Regions from separate parts of the Homo sapiens genome. Here region 1 is linked to region 2. The links come from fine-mapping of genetic effects on gene expression. A gene starts in region 2. The other region holds a variant in brackets. All regions are shown on one strand. Distances are between the middles of the regions. Region 1 overlaps ADCY5 (adenylate cyclase 5). Region 2 holds the start of ADCY5 (adenylate cyclase 5).

The links. PIP is the estimated chance that this variant, and not a neighbour inherited with it, causes the effect.
Region 1: its variant is the best candidate, but not a certain one, in a credible set for the expression of ADCY5 in tibial artery (GTEx, PIP 0.59).

Annotation. Positions count from the first base shown.
Region 1 is chr3:123,390,479-123,393,374 of GRCh38, reverse strand. The region is part of intron 1 of ADCY5 (adenylate cyclase 5); the gene reads left to right. Among named protein-coding and RNA genes, the nearest start is that of ADCY5, 57 kb to the left of the region's middle. The variant G/C (reference allele first, on the strand shown) is at 1,641.
Region 2 is chr3:123,447,550-123,450,423 of GRCh38, reverse strand. ADCY5 (adenylate cyclase 5) reads left to right here and starts at 1,334. Exons shown (of 21, transcript NM_183357.3): 1 at 1,334-2,874. The coding sequence starts at 1,879. RefSeq lists an enhancer at 2,273-2,874.

The sequences.
Region 1 (2,896 bases), 57 kb after region 2:
TTGCTCTGTTGCTCAGGCTGGTTTTGAACTCCTGTCCTTGTGTAATCCTCCCACTTCTGCCTCCCAAAGTGCTGGGATTACAGGCAGGAGCCACTGCACCCGGCCAACACCCTCATTTTATTGATGAGGACACAGGGATTCCAAGAAGGTTTAATGAACCCAAGGCTGCAGAGTTCTGAGTGAGAGGGCTTGAACCAAGGCCTGCCTCACTCTCGACCCCGGGCTCTTTTGTATCACTGGGGGAAGACTGTTGGTACAGTGTGTGTCGGGGCAGCAGGTGGCAGGAACATGGGCCTCTGTGCCTGCCTCACCTGTTGCCTTGTTTGTGGTCTGATTACAGGGACTGAAATTCCCAGTCTTCCTAGCATGTGCCATTGTCTCAGCTCAGTGCATTTAGAGTCACTGGGGGTGGTAGAGACCCCCTTCTGATCATAAAGCCACAGACACCACTTGAACAATCTGGAAAGTTAAGAAAGTGGTGGCCTCCTGTGGATGCTGTATTCTCCTGCCACAAAAAAAAGTGACTGTCCTATGTGGGAGGATGAATAAGGGGCACCATTAGAGTCTTTAGTGAGGCCTGGAGGTATAGCGTGCAAGAGAGGGAGGTGGTGGTGGAGGGAGAGAGAGAGAGGGAGAGGGAGACAGAGAGGCAGAGACTGAGAAAGAGACAGAAAGTTGGAGAAAGAGAGACATGCAGAGAGAAAGAAAGATACAGAGAAGGGGAGTAACACTGTCTGCCTGGGGACCGAGGGCCTGGATTCAGACTCCAGCTTTGTCACCACTCATCGGCTGACTGGCCTTAGGCAAGCTTTGTGCCCTCTGGCCTTGGTCAGCTGACCTTTTGATGAGAGCTGGGGATGGTCTCTGTGCCTCTCTAAGTCTGCGGTTTATGATAACCCCGTGGATCACTGCCTAACCTGTGCTGCCTGCAGACCGAGCCCATCTAAGCCCTTCCTCAGACTTTCTGAACCCCAGGCAGGTTTGTAGCCTTCCAGGAGCTCCCAGAACTTACATCTTAAGTGTCTCTAGGGGAAGAAAAAAACTTGCTCACATTCATAGCCCTGTTTCTGTGATCATAAAGCCATAGACACCACTTGAACAATCTGGAAAGTTAAAAAAGTATAAAGGAGAAAGGATAAAATCCCCCTTAATTCTATCACATTTTGCTATTTCTTTCTAGAAATCATTTAAAACAAATTAGTATAACGGAGGCTATACTGTTGTGTAACTTGCTTCCCCCACTCCTGCCACAACAGTAGTGGATTTTTCTTAATTACATAAAGTAAATTAAGACAAATGCTTTAGATGTGAGGAGGAGGCGCTCGTCCAGAGCAGGCAGGCTTTCAGCAGCTGCTGACTCTGCCCCTACTGCCAGAGTCCCAGTGTGATGGGGGTGCTTTGAGGGCCCCAGGACACTCTGGTGGGACTGTGGGTACCCCTGGGACGGAGATGAAGTTGCTGGACAGACAAGCTGGGAGCTTGGTGGAGGAGAGCTGGTTGTAGATCCACCGGCCACCCCAGGCGAACTGTTAGCCGGTGGGACTATAGCATAAGGTCCTGTACCTGCAGGGCAGTCATTCAGATGTGGCCCACTTGTGAATGGCACCCCCTGGAGTTGTGCAAGTGGAGGTTAGACTAAA[G/C]TTGCAGGGCCTGCCTGTGTTACTACTCTGACCTAACAGGAACCCCAGGCCCTGGAAAAGCTAAGCCCATTGCTTGGGGTGAGGATGAGAATATTTTGGTAATATTTCTGTACTGTGGCATTTAGACCTTGGGAAGGGGTGATGGTGGAGGCTGGACTGGAACAAGGCAACTGGAGACAGCCCAGGCAGTGTCCTTGACTGGGTGTCCTCCTGGGAAGGACGTCTCCATTGGCCGCCCTCAGTCTTCAGCCCCAGGGTGTCTCCCTCCTTCTGGGTGGGAAGTCATAATAGTAATTTATAGCTTCTCTTTCCCAAGAGGTGATCTTTCACTCTGTTTTGTCCAAGCTGCACTTGCCGTCCCCTGCACAGCCCTCAAGGACATCTGGAAGTGTTTAGACAGTCTGTGGTCATCAGGCTGGAAAGGGGGGGTTTGGCCAGGTTTTGTGGCCTGAAAGCCTCAGGAGTGGCACGTGCTTTGAAATCCTCAGAATGTAGCTCCCTTTCCTTACCCCAGACCCACACACTTTTGCTTCCTTTCCCTTCCGTCTCCTCCCCTCCCACCCGCCTAGAGGTATCAGCATGCCCTGTATATCCTTAGAGCTTCCAGGAACCCCTGGTCAGTCTGTTTGGGCAGCTGGTCCTCATGTGCAGGTGTGCTGGGCGGCCCCCAAGCCCCTGGAGGGGCAGATGGGAAGTGTGCTGGCCTCTGCCCAAGGCTGGGTCAGCACGGTGTCCTTGTAGTGTTTGGCTTCTGGTTTTCCAAAGTCAGCTTTAGGCACCTTATTCCAGGGAAGAGGGAGGCCTTGAAATGTCCATCTCACATCCCACGTGTCTCTCTTTATAGCGTGCCAGTTGCAGGTTGACTGGCAATGTGAGAGCAGACCTCAGAGATGAACCCTCGGGGATGCAGACCTCAGCCTGCTGTCCTGAGTGGGCAAAGGTGAGAAGGAGCTGAGTCCATTCCCAGGATGGGACTGGGTGGCCTAGCCTCAGGCTGTGCTGCACCTGCAGCCTTGATGGCCCAGGATCACCATGGGATTATGAGGAAGGTTCTTCACTCACATCTGCCACGCCCCAGGGGAGGCCAAGCCCAGCCCTCTGTCTTTACTCCATGGTGTCTTTTAATCCCCCAAAGCAACTTTTTATCTTCCTTTGGGCCTCTGAAAAATCTAAGCATGTATCATCCTTCCTGCAGGGAAATGCACCTCTGTGGATGCAGAGAAAGCTCAAAACCATTTTAGGAGGATCTAGGCTCC
Region 2 (2,874 bases):
CACTGCATCACCATCTTTTCCATCACTGTCTTCCTGCGTCTCAGAAGTCCTGTTTCTGCATCTCCCCTGTCCATTTCCGGGTCTGGCTCTCCGGCCCCTGAGACCCCTCCAGGGACTCTGTTCTCCTTCTCCTTGAGGCACTCGCTGCCCAGGCGCCCCCCACCCGGTGCGCCCTCCTTTGGCACAGCCGCCGGGCCAGAGAATCGCCCAATAAGAGCGCCGGACTGTAGTCTGACAGCTCCGGAAGCGGCCAATCGAGCCGGGCCAGGGAAGGGGGGCGCAGCGCCGGGGCTGAAGTTGGGTTAAATGGGGGGAGGGGGATTAAAGGGGGATACAAAAGAGGGGAGCTAGGACTGGGGGCGCTGGAGCCCTGGCCGGGGGCGGGGGAAGACCGCGCTCCACCCAGGTCTGGTGACGGGACCGCAGGCTGGATGCGGCTCCTAGTCCCAGGGAGGGAGGGGCGCAGCGAGAATTTTAGGTGAGGAAGGGGAACTGGGGTGCCCGCGGCCAGGCCTGAGGATGCCCGCGGGGCGCCGAGGCTGGGGCCATGGCCAGGCCGGGGGCGGAGGCGGCCTCGCGCGGCTGTGAGCCGAGGCCCGGGCGGCGCGGGGGGCGGGGAGGCAGCGGGAGGAGGGGATGCGGAGGGCTCTCCGGCGGCGGCGAGCGGGCGAGAAGGGAGGAGCGGCGCGAGCGGCCGGAGCGGCGCAGGGCCCGAAGCGTGCATGGCGCGCCCTGAGCCGGGCTCCCGCGGGCCCCCCCGGAGCGCCTCTCGGGCGCCGCGGCTCTCAGGCGGGCCCCTCTGGGCCGGCTGCTTCTGAGCCCCGGCGCTGGATCTCTGGATGCCTTACTCCCCGGGAGAAGCCTGCCTGCGTCGGGGCAGAACCGCGGCAGCGCTGCGCCGGATTCCGTCCTCCGCCTAGTCGTTCCGCGCCGGCCGCGGTGGGCCCGCAGCCGGCGACGAGGAGCTTGGGGCTTGCGAAGCGGGCGCGACAGCTCTCCGGGCCGGCAGGTCCCGGCCGGCCCCGCTCCGTTTGCGGGAAAGGGAGAGGCGAGAGGGGAAGGGCCGCACCGCAGGAGCCGGTCCCTGACCCGGACCCCGCCCCCTGCGCGGACGCGCCGAAGGCTCGGCTCGGCTTTCGCCGGGGCCACGCATCCACTCTCGCCGCGAGAGGTGGGGGATGCGGGCAACGGCCCCCCCGGGCTCCAGGACCCTCCCCCCCGGGGCTCCGGAGCTGTTGCTCCGCCCGTCGCCCCCTCCCCCGTCCTCTCCACCTCCCATCCCACCTCCCCACCCCTCGTAAGAAAATAATGCTGGCTGGCGCCCGCACCTCCCAGTCGCTCCCAGTCCGCTGCGAGGAAAGCGCACCCGCAGTGTCTCTTCGCCGGGACCCCCGCCGAGCCGCCCTCGCCGCCGCCGAGCCCCGAGAGCAGCTGGGCTCCGCTTAGGCGGAATCAGCGAGCGCCGCGCCCGGGCACTGCCGGCCCGAGGAGGCACCGCCCGCAAGGACACCACTCCGTCCCGTCTCGTCCGCAACTCCGGCCCTCGTCGAGCTCGACGCGAGCCAGGATCCCGGACGTCTCTCCGCGTGCGGCGCAGCAGCAGCCAGACCAGTCCCTGCGACCCCACCTCGGAGGCAACTCCATTTCGGACCTGGGACTTCTGACGCGGATCCTCAGCTACTTCTCACCTCGGGGCTGTGCCCTCCTCCTCCGCTCAGGACGGGGGTGCCAAGATGCCCCGCTGCAGCGCAGGGCCCCGGGCCGCCCCCGACGTGTGACCCTAGCCTGGTCCCCCTGCTCGGCCGTCCGCCCTCCCCTTGGAGACCCCCGGCCCGGCTTCCGGGGGAGGAGGAAGGAGACGACGAGGCCGAGGGGGGGATGTCCGGCTCCAAAAGCGTGAGCCCCCCGGGCTACGCGGCGCAGAAGACTGCGGCGCCGGCGCCCCGGGGAGGCCCCGAACACCGCTCTGCGTGGGGCGAGGCCGATTCCCGCGCGAATGGCTACCCCCATGCCCCCGGGGGCTCTGCCCGCGGCTCCACCAAGAAACCCGGGGGGGCGGTGACCCCGCAGCAGCAGCAGCGCCTGGCCAGCCGCTGGCGCAGCGACGACGACGACGATCCTCCGCTGAGCGGTGACGACCCCCTGGCCGGGGGCTTCGGCTTCAGCTTCCGCTCCAAGTCCGCCTGGCAGGAGCGCGGCGGCGACGACTGCGGTCGCGGCAGCCGCCGGCAGCGGCGGGGCGCGGCCAGCGGGGGCAGCACCCGGGCGCCCCCTGCGGGCGGCGGCGGCGGCTCGGCGGCGGCGGCTGCCTCGGCGGGCGGGACGGAGGTGCGCCCTCGCTCGGTGGAGGTGGGTCTGGAGGAGCGGCGGGGCAAGGGGCGCGCGGCCGACGAGCTGGAGGCCGGCGCCGTCGAGGGCGGCGAGGGGTCCGGGGATGGCGGCAGCTCGGCGGACTCGGGCTCGGGCGCGGGGCCCGGCGCGGTGCTGTCCCTGGGCGCCTGCTGCCTGGCGTTGCTGCAGATATTCCGCTCCAAGAAGTTCCCGTCGGACAAACTGGAGCGGCTGTACCAGCGCTACTTCTTCCGCCTGAACCAGAGCAGCCTCACCATGCTCATGGCCGTGCTGGTGCTCGTGTGCCTGGTCATGTTGGCCTTCCACGCGGCGCGGCCCCCGCTCCAGCTGCCCTACCTGGCCGTGCTGGCGGCCGCCGTCGGCGTGATCCTCATCATGGCTGTGCTTTGCAACCGCGCCGCCTTCCACCAGGACCACATGGGCCTGGCCTGCTATGCGCTCATCGCCGTGGTGCTGGCCGTCCAGGTGGTGGGCCTGCTGCTGCCGCAGCCACGCAGCGCCTCTGAGGGCATCTGGTGGACC